2 separate regions of the Homo sapiens genome follow, and region 1 is linked to region 2. Evidence: fine-mapped expression QTL. A gene starts in region 2. The other region holds a variant in brackets. All regions are shown on one strand. Distances are between the middles of the regions.

Region 1 (8,156 bases), 56 kb after region 2:
GAGAGCCTGTCTTTATCTTATATATATGAAGTTGGGAGAGCATATTTCTTTGCCAAAGTGGAGAATATTTCTTTGGAGGAGTTTGTGATCCCTCACCTCAGTTTTGTGCTTCATTGTATGCAACATACATAGCATGTGTTTTGCAATGTATATTTGGTTTAAGTGAGTCCTCCTTAGTTTTATTCAGATGTATTTAACTGTTGAATTAGAGGAAGAATCAAGTTTTGAGATGACTTCCTGTAAGGCAAACCCATCATATTTTCTTTAAGTTTAAAGATTTAAGCAACAGGGTTTGTGAATTTACTATACTATTTCAGGTTCCTTAGTATGCTAAGTGCCTTCAATAAATCCCAGGAAGCCGGTGAAGGGCAGGAATTGTTTTGGTGTAAGGAGCAAAAAGGAGTTTCTATAATGTAGGAAATGAATGTAGCTGTTCTCTTTCAGGGCTGGGTCTAGTGGTCTAAAGTTCAACTGAATGGGCATGATTGAGGCATCCTCAAGTATTAAATAGACCCATAGCTCTCTGTTCCAGGAAGGGGAGGAGAGCAGTCCAAGCCAAGGGAGGATCTTGAGACTTGAAGAAGACTACTGGGGGTTTGAGAGGGTATGGGTAGGTGATATTTAAGATTTCTGGCTTTTTCCTGCAAGCAGTGGCTTAAAGGGCAACACCTTAGGAGACAAATCAGATACATACATTAAAACAAATCCCTCTGTTAGGGTCTTCCTACCTCTAAGGACTATCTGTCTAGCATACTGTTGCATGATTCAGGACTATGTTCTCTCTCCTACCTCGTCAGGCTCCATAGCTTTGTGTATAAGACCCTTTATGATCCAGCCACTGCCACATTTTCTACCCTCATCTTTCCTCCTGTTGATCTTGCCACTTTATTTCCTAGAAGCGCTAACCTTATAGTTACTTCAATTTACCGTGCTTTTTCATGCCTCTAAGCTTTTACATATGCTATAATTTCTTCCCAGAATGCCCTTATTCTTTTGTCTTGCTTGGCAAACTACAATTCATTAAAAAAACCTATCTCAGATGTTTCTTTTGGGAAGTCTTTCTTGACATTGGATTCCCCATATTAATAATAACAGCAGCAGCAGCAGCAGCAAAAACTTACATAGAATGTATTAGGCACCATTATAAGTCCCTTGCTTATGTTAACTCACAACAATTCAATGAAGTAGACTATTATTACTCCCATTTTACTGATGAAGAAATAGTAGCACAGATATACTTAAGTAAATCCACCATGAACATAGAGCAAGGCCAGACATGGTGGGTCACGCCTATAATCCCAGCACTTTGGGAGGCCAAAGCAGGTAGATCACTTGAGGTCAGCAGTTCGAGACTGGCCTGCACAAAGTGGTGAAAACCTGTCTCTGCTAAAAATACAAAAATTAGCTGGGCGGGATGGCGCACGTCTGTAGTCCCAGCTACTCGGGAGGCTGAGGCAGGAGAATGGCTTGAACCTGGGAGGTGGAGGTTGCAATGAGCCAAGATTGTGCCTCTGCACTCCAGCCTGGGTGACAGAATGAGATGAGACTCTGTCTCAAAAAAAAAAAAAAAAAAAAAAAAAAAGTAATAGAGCATAGAGCAGAACAGATCATACTTTTAACTAGTATATTATACTGCTGTTTGCTGTCACTTCTGCTTTTGAGCTCTTCATATCTTTAACATTTATTTCTGTTTTTACATTTATTGTGCCATACATTTGTTTAGATATTTGTTTCATTGAAAAAAGGTGTGTTTGTTGAATTCATGCCTTTTTTCAATGGAGTAGAGAAATCCTACTCCTCTGTATCCCTAATTCCTTCAGGCAAATGTTACAGTAGGGAGCAGCAGGGATTTAGGTGGAAGGAAGGATGTATATCCTGCCTAAAAGCACTTCCACTAAAATTTAAAAACTGTATGACACTTTCTATGGAAGAGATTCAGTTAGTTGCTATTATGTAATCTTTGGAATAAAACATTGTAAGTGCTTAAATGTTTGTTCAGTGAAATGTAGTTCATTTCCTAGCCTAAGATAAGTAAAGGGGATGAGAGTACCCTTAAGGTAATATTAATTAATATTTTGTTAATGGTTTTCATTCAAGAGGGCAAGGGCAGAGATGCTGTAGATGGATGAAAACACAGAATGGATAGTATCATAGGACCAACAGGTTTATATGCCCACTGTGCCGTAACAGACTAATACACCAAGACAGCAGGGTTTGTAGCAGAGAAAAGAGTTTAATGGGCCTGGCGAGGTAGCTCACGCCTGCAATCCCAGCACTTTGGGAGGCTGACATGGGCAGATCACGAGGTCAGGAGATCGAGACCATCCTGGCTAATACAGTGAAACCCCATCTCTACTAAAAATACAAAAACAAAAAATTAGCCGGGTATGGTGGCGCCTGTAGTCCCAGCTACTCAGGAGGCTGAGGCAGGAGAATGGCATGAACCCAGGAGGTGGAGGTTGCAGTGGGCCGGGATCGCGCCACTGCACTCCAGCCTGGGCGACAGAGCAGGACTCCGTCTCAAAAAAAAAAAAAAAAAAAAGGGTTTAATGATTGCAGGGCACTGAGTGAAGAGATGGGAGGAGGCCTTGAAATCCATTTTTCCAAAAAATTCTGGGCTGGGTTTTTTTTGTTTGTTTTGTTTTTGTTTTTAAGAAAGGGTCTCTGTTGCTTAGCTGTAGTGCAGTGGTGCATCATGGCTTACTACAGCTTCAACCTCCTGGGCTCAAGTGATCCTCCTGCTTCAGCCTTCTAAGTAGCAGGGACTACAGGCACACACCAACACATCCAGCTAAATTTTTATTTTTTGTAGAGACAAGGTCTGGCTATGTTGCCCAGACTAGTCTTGAACTCCAAGTGATCCTCCCACTTTGGCCTCTGGAAGGCCATACTCTGGGATTACAGATGTGAGTTACTGTGCCCAGCCTGGGCTAGGATTTTTAAGGGGATCGTGGAGGGAAAGGAGCTGGAAATTTGTGGTCTTTGATTGGTTGGGGTAAGGGGGATAAAATCATCAGCATATGGAAACTGTACTGTTTGGTGAGTCAGCTTCTTGGTGGGAGTCTTTCATAGTAGCTGATGTCAGTAGTTTCATTGGTACACAGGACCTGAAAGAGTATTCAAATGGAAAACTTAACATTTCATAATGTTCAGGTTGTTACCTATAGAGCAGTTAAGGGGAGCTATAATCTAGTAACAGGGTCTGTGTGATTCTAGGACAGTAGGCACCAAACAACTATGAGGAAGCAGGTCAGAGAGTGAGCTGACCTCATGATTAATGCTGAATGTGCTGCCAGCTTGGTTTATTTTCATTTCTAGCCCTCCTTTCTTTCCTGATTAATTTTATAAGGTTTATAGGGACCGTTTCAGTGAGGCTACATTTGTCCTTTTAGCTTGTGATTTTCTCTTCTATTCTTTCCCCAGTGTTCATTAACAATTGGTTCTGTGGCATTTATAGTCCTCATTACATATGCAGATGTTGCCTGGTAGAGCATTGTGGCCTGAGCAATAGAGTAAGTTCTCAGAAATGGCAAGAGGCAAGGGTTGAAACAGAGTTTCTGCTTTGCTCAGTCTACTTTAACTCTCAGAAAGAGATAAAGAAAGGGGGAAAAAAGGATACAGTGGCTGTCTTAACTTGGACTAACATAACAAAATACCACAGACTATGTGGCTTCAACCGGAGTAATTTATTTTCTCATAGTTCTGGAGGCTGAGAAGTCCAAGATCAAAATGCCAGCTGATTCATTTTCTGGTGAGGGCTGCCCTCCTTGGCTTGTAGACAGCTGCATTCTTGCTGTGTCCTCACATGGTTGAGAAAGAGAGAGAAAGAGCAAGCCCTCTGTTATCTCTTCTTATCAGGGCACTGATTCCATCCTGAGAGCCCCACCCTTATGACTTCATCTAAACCTGATTATCCCCCAAAAGCCCCATCTTCAAGGTATGGATATGGGGAGGGACACAATTCAGTCTGTAGCAGTGGTGTAATAATTTTTTGGTGACTTTCTTGTATCTTAAGATTTTGGCCATTATTAATAATGCTTTGGAGACCCTTTACTGAAGAGGAAATTTTTTCCTTGTTTTATATCTGACCATAGATAGTTACTAGGATTTTTAAAATAAAAACTCCAGATGTCATAGTAATAATTTTCAGATACCACAGCCTTTCCTCACAGATTATGTTACTTTGGCTTCAATAAAGGTTTTCCCC[G/C]CTTCTGTATTCCATCTCCCTTCTTTTTGGGAGCCTTTTTATGGCCTTATTTATTGTTGCATCAGTTTTAGTGTGGGCTTTTCTGTTTTGCAGGTGGAGACCACGTAGCTTTGCAAGGCCAGAGTTAATGAAGATCTTATATAATTCACTGAATGATTCCTTTAAACGCCTTATTTATCCTCTTCTCTGTAGAGAATTCAGGTATATATCTTGTCTTGTTTAATTTTGTGTACTGATTATTGTTATATGATACTAGTACCATTACAGTGTGTAGCTAATGTTTGTTGATTGATTAACCAATCGAAAGAATTTAGTCAGCATCACAAAGTGTTAAAGTTAAGGCTTGATTTCAATCTGTAGATGCATTCACATGCATAGATCATAAAAATAGTTCTTAATTATGATATGTTTTTCAAATCTTGACCACTTAATGTGTACCCCTTGAAATCCTGCAATACTAGTCTTGCAGCTGGAGGCAGTTTTTAGAGGTAAGAGAGCCAAAGAAAGCATAAGGAAATCAGTAGGGTACATGATGAATCAATTACTTTGTTTTTAACTCCAAATGGGAGTTATTTGGATGAAAAATTATCAGCAATGATAAATATTAGGAGATTATTAAAATGGCAATGTGAACGGACTAATAGAAGGACTAAGTAATATAGATGAAAACTGCAAAAGAGGTGAGGTGCAGAATTGTTTTCAGGACAGAAGATGGAAAGAAAAGAAATGTAGGGAGGCAAAACTCCTCTCTCTTGCTTCTCTGTAACCCTTGTTTTTGCACCCAATCTTTAGAAACTAGACATTCCCTAATTCATTCCTTCCAAAATATTATAGATTATCTTCATTCTCATTTCTTTGTAGGTTTCAGCAAGGGCTACTTGAAAACTGTAGTTTTGTAGCCATCTCTTCAACCTCTCTAGAATTTTTAGCAGCCTATGTAGGGCTTGTTTCTCTTTTGCTGGACTTGACCATTGAATTAAGATGGGTTCAGAGCAGGGAGTGAGCAGGTACTATTAAAAAAGACACATAGTCCTGTTGTCCAATTTCTTTTTACCAAAGTCATTTAATCTCTTGTTACATCCATTTTAGCCTAGATGTAGCCTAAAAATATTGTTCCTTTTAGAATTGTATTTCACTTCAAGCTGTCTAACATCGCTTGCTTTTGAGAGCTAGGGCATACACTTTAAAAATTAGGAATTTGGTTCTTCCTGAAGGAAAAAATTATGTTATTTAAAATTTCAATTTCTTTTTGTATGTTTTTCTTTTTATTGTTTTCTCATGTTGCTTATGTCTAGTGGCACTTTTGACATTTTTTGCATATATTTTTGATTTGAGTAGCTTCACTGCATGTGGAATAATTTCATCAAGGTTTAATGTAAACAGTTTGATGTGGGATCATTTAATGTATAAACTGTTTCTGAATTCCATTAGCAGTAGATAAGCAAGAGTACTTTCTCTTTCTTTTTCTAAAATGCCCATGGTTAAAATAATATAACTTATTTCAGTTTATAAGTTAGTTTGCAGGTATTATCTACAGATACGCCTCCTGATAGGAATACTTAACCTGAATAGCAGTTAAAGAGGAGGACACTCCCACTTGGTTTGTTTTTTAGACCATTTTATTTTGCAGTCACTTAATTTGGTTGACTGTATACTATGCATAGCCTACGTCTGCATATCTTATTCCCGTGACTGTCATGATCATTCATCCATGTGTCATTTTTCACATCTATCTCTGTCATCAGTTCTACATTGTCAGTTACAAAGTGCTATCTATTTTGCCATCTTTTATTATAACTTGAATTTTTCCTCCCCTTTATCTCCGTGGTGACTGTCTTAATTCAGGACATCATCATTTTTTGTCTGGATTACTGAACTAGCGTCATAGATGATCTTGGTCTTCTGTCTTGTCTTTTCCAATGCATATTACAAATCGCCCTTTCAAAATTCTCATCTCACAATTTCATGCTTGTATACTTCTTTCAGCTGATCTTGTTTGTCTCCAGGATAGAATCCAAGCTCTTGAGAAGAACATGCATGACCCTTTGTGATCTGTTTTTTTCTTGCCTCTACTTCTGTCTCGCTGTTTCTTTTTACTTTAGCATACGAAATTACTTGCTGTTTCTATGATGAGCCATGAGCCTTTACATATGCTGTTTCCATTGTCCGGGATATTTTCTCCCTGCCCACTGTGCCTACTTTTGTTTGCATCCCATGTGACATTCAAATGTGCGTACACTCTCTGTCTTTCTCACATATACACATATTTATAAATATGGGTTTTATATACAGTAGAGAGCAGATAGAGAGGTAATGTAGGTATGATAAACTTACAAGACTTGCTTCAGAATTGCTTGTGGTATCATATTACTGTGATTAGTGAAAATAGACTCAATATAATTTTTGTATATTTTTCTCTTAAGTTATATTGTTATAATAAATTATCCTTTGAGAAATAATTGTACAAAATGAATTCTGCTCCTTTTCTGGAAAGAAAATTTGGGTGAATGAAAAACTTTTTCTTTTCTTCTATTTCTAAAGAGCCAAACTAACATCAGATGCAGAGAAGGAATCAGTAATGATGTTTGGACGGAACCTTCGTCAGCTCCTTTTAACAAGCCCTGTTCCAGGGCGCACCTTAATGGGAGTGGATCCTGGTTATAAACATGGTTGCAAATTAGCTATAATTTCTCCTACTAGTAAGTTGTCTTGCAATTTTCCATGTAAAAGTTGTTTGGTTGGTTATAAGTTTCACTTCATACATTTCATGAGGATTTGGAAATAATGTTAATTTTAAAGGCTTAAAAAGTGGTTTTCTCACATACAGGGGTGTTGGGAACCAGATAATCAAACTTCATTTTTCTCTCATTTGTTGATCAAACTCCTCAATATACAACTATCATTTATATGCTTCCTATATCTCAGTAGAGATATTGAGGATTAATTAGGCTCGGACTTGAACTCTATTAATTCCCCATCAGATTCTATTATTGTGATGCATTTATATATGATGCATTTTAATTCTGCTTATATTTTAAATACCAAAAGACATTTTTATTGTTTTGCTCAATTTTTTTTCCTGTTTACTTACATTTACACTGATATTCTTCATTTCTTTTGCATTTCCGTGCTTCCATTTGAGATCATTTTCTTTCTGCCTGAAGAACTCTATGCTATTACTTTTAATGAGTCACATTGTCTTAGTTTTAGTTTGTCTGAAAACATCTCTGTTTTGCCTTCATTTTTGAAGAATATTTTTTGCTTGGTGTAGAATTCAAGATTGGCAGTTACTTTCAGTACTTTAAAGATGTCATTCTTTTTTTTTTTTTTGGCTACTGTAATTTTTGTTGAGAAGTCAGCCAAACTGTGGTTATTTGTTATTGTTCCTTTGAAGGTAATATGTCCTTTTCCTCTGGCTGCTAAGATTTTCTCTTTGTGTTTCTCAGTTTTCTTATGATGTGCTTCAGTGGGTGTGTATGTATGGGTTTTCTTGTCTTTTCTTTTCTGCATGAATTCCACTTAGGGTTTGTGGAGCTTCTAGCATCTCTTTCTGGAACTCCAATTACATACATATTATACCTTTCAGTTTCTTCTCTCCTTTTTGTTTATTTTCTGTTGATCATCTAAGTTAATTAATCCTCTATCCTGCTATGTCTAATTTGTTACTAAAACCATCTACTGGGTTCAAGTGGTTGGTTTTTCAGTTTTAGAATTTCCATTTGATACTTTGAAAAATAGGGTTATAGCTCCCTATGAACTTCTTTATTTCTAATGTTTTTGATCTTTTAACTTCTTGTTTTATTTTCTATTAGCCTTTACTATTTTAATTTTTTAAGTTTAGATTTTCATTTCTGAAATAATTTTTTCTTTCATCTCGAATTCATTCCCAGTTTATCTCATCTAATTTCTGAGATTTTCTAATTTTGACTTATGTTATTCTTTTATTTAT
Region 2 (8,156 bases):
AGTCTACTGATTCAAATGTCAGTCTCTTCTGGAAATACTCTCACAGACACACACAGAAGTAATGTTTTATCAGCTGTCTGAGCATCCCTTAATCCAGTCAAGATGACACCCAAAATTAACCATCACACTGATTGACTCTCAGAGATAAAATGTTTGAATTTTCATAAGTACACTTGATTTTTAAAATGGCAACCCACCTTCTGTGTCAAGAGCTTTAACTTACTTTTCTCATAAGAGAAATTTGTTTGTACTCTAGACATATTATTGGGTCCAGGAGTTAGTGTACTATTTTTAATGAGTACCTATTATATGTCAAGCATTATTAGGCACTGTGTGGGTGGCGGGAGAAGGTGGAGAGGGGAGGAAAATTTGTTTTTACTTTAGACATGTTTTTGGGTCCAGGAGTTAGTCTACTATATTATTGAGTACCTATTATATGTTAAGCATTATTAGGCACTGTGTAGGTGGAGGGAGAAGTTGGAGAGGGGGAGATAAAAAATTACCAAGAGTTAGTTCCTAGATCCAAATATCTATTAGTAGGTGAAACAGTTGCATCTATTAATATATTAAGAATTTTTGTTCTTATGAAACTTAGTTTGAGGCCAATAGAGAGAATAGCTTTGTTATGTTTCAGGTGGTTAGACAGTACTTTATTTAGAGTATTTAGAGATTCGACAGTTCTGGAGCACCTTAAACATTGAGAGTCTCACTGGCCACCATAGTGGAGCGAGAAAAGGTCTTTGCTTTGAGTTTGTGGTACAGCTGGCCATCTGTATCTGCATTCATGGATATGGAACCTGCAGATGTGGTGGGCCAACTTTTTCTATCACTGATTGGTTGAGTATCTGTAAATTTTGCTATCTGTGGGGGGTCCTCAGACCAATCCCCTGTGGATAGACAGCAAATTGTATGTGGATACCTTTCAGAGTACTTGCTTTGGAGTAAAGCAGATTATTGGATTTGAATCTCAGATCTACAATTTATTAGCTGATGTGACCTTAGATGAATTATTTAACTTCTTTATACCTGGTATTCTCATTTATAAAAATGGTTTAATAGCAATATTGCATTGGGGTAATATGTGAATTATATACATAAATACATCTAAAAGCATTAACTTAGTGCCTGGCACAGGTAAGTAATCAATAAAGGTAAGTTATTACTATTATTATTACATTTGCCCTGGGGAGCTAGAACCCATAGGGGAAGGACTTGAAAACAGATAATAACATACAAATGATAATGTATCAGTGAATATCATGGGAAGAGCTATATACTTTGGAGGGATAAAACAACCTCCATCAAATCCAAAACATGTTTTCATTACTCCCAAACCCTATTGCATAGTCTCAGGTGGGTGTCCGGATTATTCCAGGCTTTCAGTCTAAACCCATGAATTTCTTGGAATTCAGCACTTGAGATCCAAAAGTAAACAATAGATTGGGCAATGTCCTAGACAGAAAAGGCAGTTTTTGTGGGAGGGCCTGTTTTATACTTAAGTGATTACAAATTTTCCTTGACAGCGTGTAGTGGGAGTGACTCTCTTATAGAATTCCAAGGGAAATATTCTCTGGACAGTCCTTATTGGCCTTTAGAGTAGGCCACTACCTACATACTTTAATTTTAGAGAACCTGCTTCAGATTTTATTTTCCCCAGATGTCTGATGTCTAAAATCTTAACAGGCTATTTATTTTTGTGATTTTTTTTTTCTTCCCCAGCTGTAAGGCAAAAATCCCTTGTGGGGAGAGGAAAGTCAAGCTTCAATGCTTTGCTGGCCCACTCTTACTCTCCTCCTCACTGTAGTGTGGCTACTACCTGCATACCCAACCCTTGAAGCTAGACTGTTTTGCTTGGGTGTCTGTTTCCTCTGGCTGTATCTGGTTCCTACTCTTGGTCGTAAATTCCTCCAGGGCAGGACTTATGTCAAAAGACTTTGCAGTATATTAGTTCACCTTTACCCTTACTACCTCTGCAATGATTGGAATGTCCCCTTCAAAAATTCAAGTTGAAACTTGTCATTGTAATAGTATGAAGAGGTGGGACCTTTAGGAAATGATTAGGTCATGAATGAGTTAATTCCATTATCACAGGAGGGTTAGTTATTTCGGGAGTCAATTGGGTTCACATGCCTCCCCCACCCCTACCCCAGTATGATGCCCTCCATCATATTTTGACACAACAATAATGCCCTCTGTCTTGGACTTCCCAGCCTTCAGAACTACAAGCCAAACAAATCTCTTTCTTTATAAATCTACCAGTCTATGGTATTTGGTTACAGCAGCAGAAAATTGACCAAGACAACCCCTTACCATAAACCTGAGTAGCAAATGCAACATCAAAAGTAGGTGAATAGTAAGTAGTACATTATTGTTGTTGATTTCTATGATCTGGTTTCTCTTCCCACAATCCTGAACGGTAAGGTGTTCTCTAGTATTTCTTCAGGACCATAAATTGTGAAGGAGACTGTGATTGTAGTAGACAATTCTAGGCCTTCTGGAACCATCACTAAAGGCAACATACGACTGTGCTAATTAAAAGGAAAAAAAAATCCCTAAACAATCTCGGAAACTGATCTTTCCTGGCCAACAATCTCAGATATAGAAGATTAGATTTACTAAATTTAGAAAGAATCCTTTTTTTTTTCCCCCAATCACAAAAATTATCCAGTAAAATCTATGCTCACTTCCGGTAGATCTGCAACAAGGCACGGTCACAGGTCATTTCAATAACTTGCTAGGCTCTTCAGTACTCAGAGTCCCTGGAAATAAGTCATTAGCAGTGGAAAGCTGCTTTTTAGAATTTTCTAAAACAAATCCATGGGGTTTTGATCTGCTAAATTCGAATGTAGACAACAGCAGCCTTATTTCCCTACTTTTATAATCTAATTTATTTGGCTGTATCTGTGGGCTTAAGAGTTTAGTGTTCTTGGTAAATAACACGTAAAAAAAAAGTCATTTTTCATTTCTACGAACCAGCCCCACCCCGGCGCTCCCTCGGGATCCTCGCTCTAGCCCCGCCTCCGTCCAGCCTGGCTCCGCCCCGTTCGGTAGCGCCGCGCCTTGGAGGTCTGTGGCTAACTTGGTCCGGAAGAAGCGAGGCGGACCTTCTGGCGTTTGAAAAACTTCCGGCGGGAACCGGAAGGTGCGGTGGCACTCACGGAATCTCGGGTCTTCTGACGTGCCGGGCGGGAAGGTGAGCTGTGCGTGCGCCTTGGCGGTCGTCTTGCGGGTTCTCAAGAGCCCGGCGTCCGGGCTCCGGGATCTTTGGGGCCATTAAAAAAGTTCTGAGCGCTCATTTGGGCAATAACACCCCTTTTTTAAAAGTGAGAAGTTCATTACATTTTACTGTCAGCGGTCTCTCACAACCGACCACCCGAAAACCCCTCCTAGCTACCTCGTGACACCTCTTTTCAGCCAAATTGCTGCAGCTCTTAGCGCATAACAGACATAGAAAAGCCTGGGCAAGCCTGTTTTTTTTTTTTTTGAGACGGAGTCTCCCTCTGTCGCCCAGGCTGGAGTGTAGTGGAGCGATCTCGGCTCACTGCAAGCTCCGCCTCCCGGATTCACGCCATTCGCCTGCCTCAGCCTCCCGAGTAGCTGGGGCTACAGGCGCCCGTCATCACACCCGGCTAATTTACCTGGATTGTTTTTATACCTAAAATTATCGGAGGTGGGAGAGGAAGCACCCTTTTCACGGTCATGGTGGCCCTGTCTGAATCAACTGCACCTTCTGTAGTGCGCCTGGCATGTAGGAGGCGCTCAGTAACCGGAGGAAAGGAATGAATTGGGAACTCTCTAGGCAACTTTCCTCGAACCCCTCACGTGACATGTCATTAACATATTGTGTGTGGAATGGGAAACGAGACTAGTCTTGGTGTTCCAGGCACTGGGCTATAGTCCTTTGCCACATATCTTTCCCCTTTGAGTAAACTGTTTCACCTCATTGGGTCTCAGATTTCTGAATATAGCGGGACTGTCTGATCTCAGGTTCTTTCAGCTCTAGTATTTTGTTTTTGTGACTTGGGAATCTGCTAACATTCAAGCACTCTGTTGGTCCTTCATGGAAACTTGTTTAGGTGCTTCTTAAGAAATTGTCCTCCTTTGTTTGCCTTCTTGAATTTAAATTTTTTTTTCCAATTTTAATTTAGTATTTGTTAGTGTGCACGTCCTTTTGCCCCTTTGTCCTGATTTGCAGTCGTCCTAGTTTAGTGGCTCTTCCCTTAGTAACATCATAGCAACCTCCAAATTATTGGTTTGGAATATGCTCATGTGCCTACAGTGATTAAGATAGTTTGAAAGGAGGGAAAAATCCCAAGTCACTGAAGAATAGGAATATTCTTATGTGCCATCACTTCTTCAGAAAGAGATGAATGCAATGTGTGGCATTGCCTAAGAGTGGTGGAAAATAAATGTATATTCCTCTGTAGAGACCATATTTGTACATATTATGTTCATTTAATAGTTGTAGGGCATCTGTTAAGTGCTAGGTTCTATGATATGGAAGTGAATAAGGCACATGCATTTCCTTCTTTCATGGTATTTACTCTCTTGACAGCAGTGCAAGCAATAAACAAGTAAAATAAAAATAATTACAGATTGTGTTATAACCTACTGTATACAGGAAGTAAATAGGCTCCTTTTAAAATATAATTGAGAAACCTATTTTAGGCCTGAAATGTTAAGATCTAAGGGATGCAAGGAGCCAGCCAATTGACAAGCAGGGGGAAGAATACTCCAGGCAGAGAGTACCTGAGGTGGGAAAGAATGTTATGACAAGAGCTGAGGAGCTCCAGCAAGTAGTAAAGGTGGTTAGAAAGGTGAGCAGGGCTCAGTCCGACAGGGCCTTTTCAAAGGCCTCATAAAAATGTGGCTTGATTCTAAGTGAAGGATGGGGTGGGAAGTAATTCGTTGTTTCTAAAGCATATTCTAAATGATCTTGAGTTGATAAGTGGAGAATGAGTTGCAGGGGCAAGAGTGGAAGTAGGGAGGGCAGTTAAGAGGCGAGTGTGGTAGTTCAAGTGAGGGAGGTTGAGGACTAAAGGCTCACTGAAGATCGTGGAGATTCAAGACATTTTGGAGGAGGATCTTATGTGACTTACTAATAGTCTGGATATGTGAGATGAAAGAAAAAAAGATTTGTAACATTTTGACTTAGCAAATGGAACTTTGGAGGATGATAATGTGTTCATTTTCTTGATTGTAGTGATATGTATACATATGTCAAAACATCAAATTTGCACACTTTAAACATGTGCAGTGTATTGCATGTCAATTATATGTCAATGAAGCTGTTAAAGAATTTTCTGGCCAGGCGCCATGGCTCACACTTGTAATCCCAGCACTTTGGGAGGCCGAGGCAGGCAGATCACCTGAGGCCAGGAGTTCGAGACCAGCCTGGCCAACGTGACGAACCCCGTCTCTATCAAAAATAGAAAAATTAGCTGGGTGTGGTGGTACACGCCTGTAATCCCAGTTACTTAGGAGGCTAAGGCAGGAGAATTGCTTGAACCTGGGAGGCAGAGTTTGCAGTGAGCTGAGATCACTCCAGGCTGGGTGACAGAGTGAGACCGTCTCAAAAAAAAAAAAAAATTTTTTTTTTCAAGGTTCTGGCTTAGCAAATAGGTGGGTGCCACTTATTGAGATGGGAAGGACTGGAATAGGAACAGGTTTTAGAGCAAGAAATGGTCATCAAGAGTTCCATTGTGGATGTGTTAAGTTAACTGTGAGACATCTAAATAGTTTCAGAGACAGGCAGTTTATTATAGAAATCTGAATGTTAAAGGCACGGTTTGGGATGGAGGGATTAGGATTGTTAATAAGTAGGTGACATCGGTATGTAAAACCGTGGAGATGGATGAGGTTTTGGTTAATCTAACAAGTTTTATGACACAAAGTAAGAGGATATGGGAGTAGTGGAGATGGAGAAACAGGCCTCAAGAATATTGGTGTTTAAACTGGAGAATACATACTCCTGGGGGTGTACCTGTCGTAGGTAGTTTTAAAGACATAATTTCCAAGTCTTCAGCTTTTGTATATATTCTTTCTAAATCTGATCTGCTTGAAATTGGCTTGTGTGTTCATGCAGATTCTGCTTTCCCACCTTTCCTTTTACATTGATATTTTTAACATTTGTGAAAAGAAATATTACAACTCACTCATCTTTCCATGGTATATTGCTTTCGGGGTGCCTTATAAAGAGGCAGTTGGAAATATTTGATTTAGGGGAGCCTTCTTTAAGGATAATGGTTAAGCAAAAACATAAGCCTGCCAAGGGTTTGCCTGTCCCTATTTTAAACACATTTCTGTTAAGGCTGAAGTGTGGAGATAGAATTAGTATATGGTAGTCTGTGTGGGAATGTTCTGAATTCAGGCATATTGTAGAATGTGGTGGTAGGAGTGATTGTAAGGTGATCTGGGTGGGTTGTTTGATGGGAAGCTTAGCACCTTCAAGTTTTTACTCTTGGACTGGTTAGATTCTCCAGAGAAAAGCCTTCCCATTCTCCTCCCTAGAGGGCAGTATTTTAGGAATTTAGTGGCGGAAGACTAGGGTTCTCTGCCTTTAGCATTCAGTCTGTATGGTTCCCATGCCCACAGTCTAGACTGTTTCATTAATACCTTCTCCAGAGAATAAACTTACAGTCTTTTTCCTGGGGCAGTTGCCTAATAGCATGAAGTGAGGTAGGACACTTAGAGATATTCCTTTGTCAGTTTATACACAGCCCTAACCCGTTTCACCTTTAATTCCAAAGGTATCAGCTACTGCTTCATATGAATTTTTTTTTTTTAGAATACTGCAGGGTAAATTGGTTTGGTTCTCATATGCTCCCACTACTGGCTTGGGATTTTAATTTTTATGTGTTGCAATTTGTTAGTCTTTTTGGTTTTGGAATTTTGAGGAGTCATATTTAGGAAAACCTCCATTTCCCCATCTCCCCTCAATAGTGTGAAAAGAATCACCTTTATTTCTTAGTTCTTTTATAGTTTTAATTTGTACATTTTAAACTATTAGTTATTGGGGAATAAATTTTTGTTAATGGTGTGGAGGTAGGAATTAAACTCCTTTTTTTCTTCTAGAGGAATAGCTAGTTGTCTCAATACCATTTATTGAATAATCCATTTTTACCCTGCCCTGATTTTAAATGCCACCCTTGTCATACACTAACTTCCTCCATTCTTATTTTGTTGTGGTAAGATACACATAATATAAAAATCACAATTACCTGTTCTTTCATGATCAATGTCTAAAAAATACTAATTTGAGAAAGGATGATCTTTATAACCTAATATGCCAAAAAGAGAGTGAAGGGAAAGATGGAAGATTATCCTGTCTACTTCCTGCAGACTGCTTTCCTGTTGTTCTTTTGGTTCCCTCTGAGCACTATTTTGCCCAATCATTGTGTACTTACTGGACTGAGTTGAGCTATAGCTGCTGGGAGAACATATTCCCTTTTGTGACAACCCCTTTAGTATTTCCATGAGAGATTATTTCCTCTTCTAAGCGGATGTTAGAACCAGAGGCATTATAACATATGACTGGGTCAGAAACTTGTTTAAAGGGTTCCAAACATGTCAGAGCCTAGTGTAGTCCTTATAGTTTGATGGTTTTATGGTAATAATATCAGGCAGCCACTTATAAAGTCCTTTATTAATTAATTTTAACAGCTAATTAATCTTAACAGCTAAAGTAATTTTATTTACTTTCCCGTATTATGTGATGTCTCTGGTTATTTGTCTTAACTTTTTTTTACAGCTTGGCCTTCGAATTTGGTAAATAGTTTTTAGTCACATAGTGATTAATCATTTTATTTAAGTTTAATGAACTTTTATTATAAGGGAATGATTATCTTGTTTTAAGAATAACCTGGCTGCTTACTCAGTCAATCAGCATCATTTATTTCATTGCCAACTTTGTAGAGAGACCTCTACTTTATTCATTAAGAATATATAGAATAGGCTGGGCACAGTGACTCATGCCTGTAATCCCAGCACTTTGGGAGGCCGAGGTGGGCGGATCACCTGAGGTCGGGAGTTCAAGACCAGCCTGACCAACATGGAGAAATGCTGTCTCTACTAAAAAATACAAAATTAGCCGGGTGTGTTGGCGCATGCCTGTAATCCCAGCTACTAGGGAGGCTGAGGCAGGAGAATCGCTTGAA

What was found. PIP is the estimated chance that this variant, and not a neighbour inherited with it, causes the effect.
Region 1: its variant is fine-mapped to the expression of SRBD1 in whole blood (INTERVAL, PIP above 0.99).

What each region holds. Positions count from the first base shown.
Region 1 is chr2:45,549,875-45,558,030 of GRCh38, reverse strand. SRBD1 (S1 RNA binding domain 1) reads left to right here. Exons shown (of 21, transcript NM_018079.5): 11 at 4,301-4,408; 12 at 6,749-6,906. Among named protein-coding and RNA genes, the nearest start is that of SRBD1, 57 kb to the left of the region's middle. The variant G/C (reference allele first, on the strand shown) is at 4,208.
Region 2 is chr2:45,606,256-45,614,411 of GRCh38, reverse strand. SRBD1 (S1 RNA binding domain 1) reads left to right here and starts at 3,145. Exons shown (of 21, transcript NM_018079.5): 1 at 3,145-3,193. RefSeq lists an enhancer at 3,325-3,494.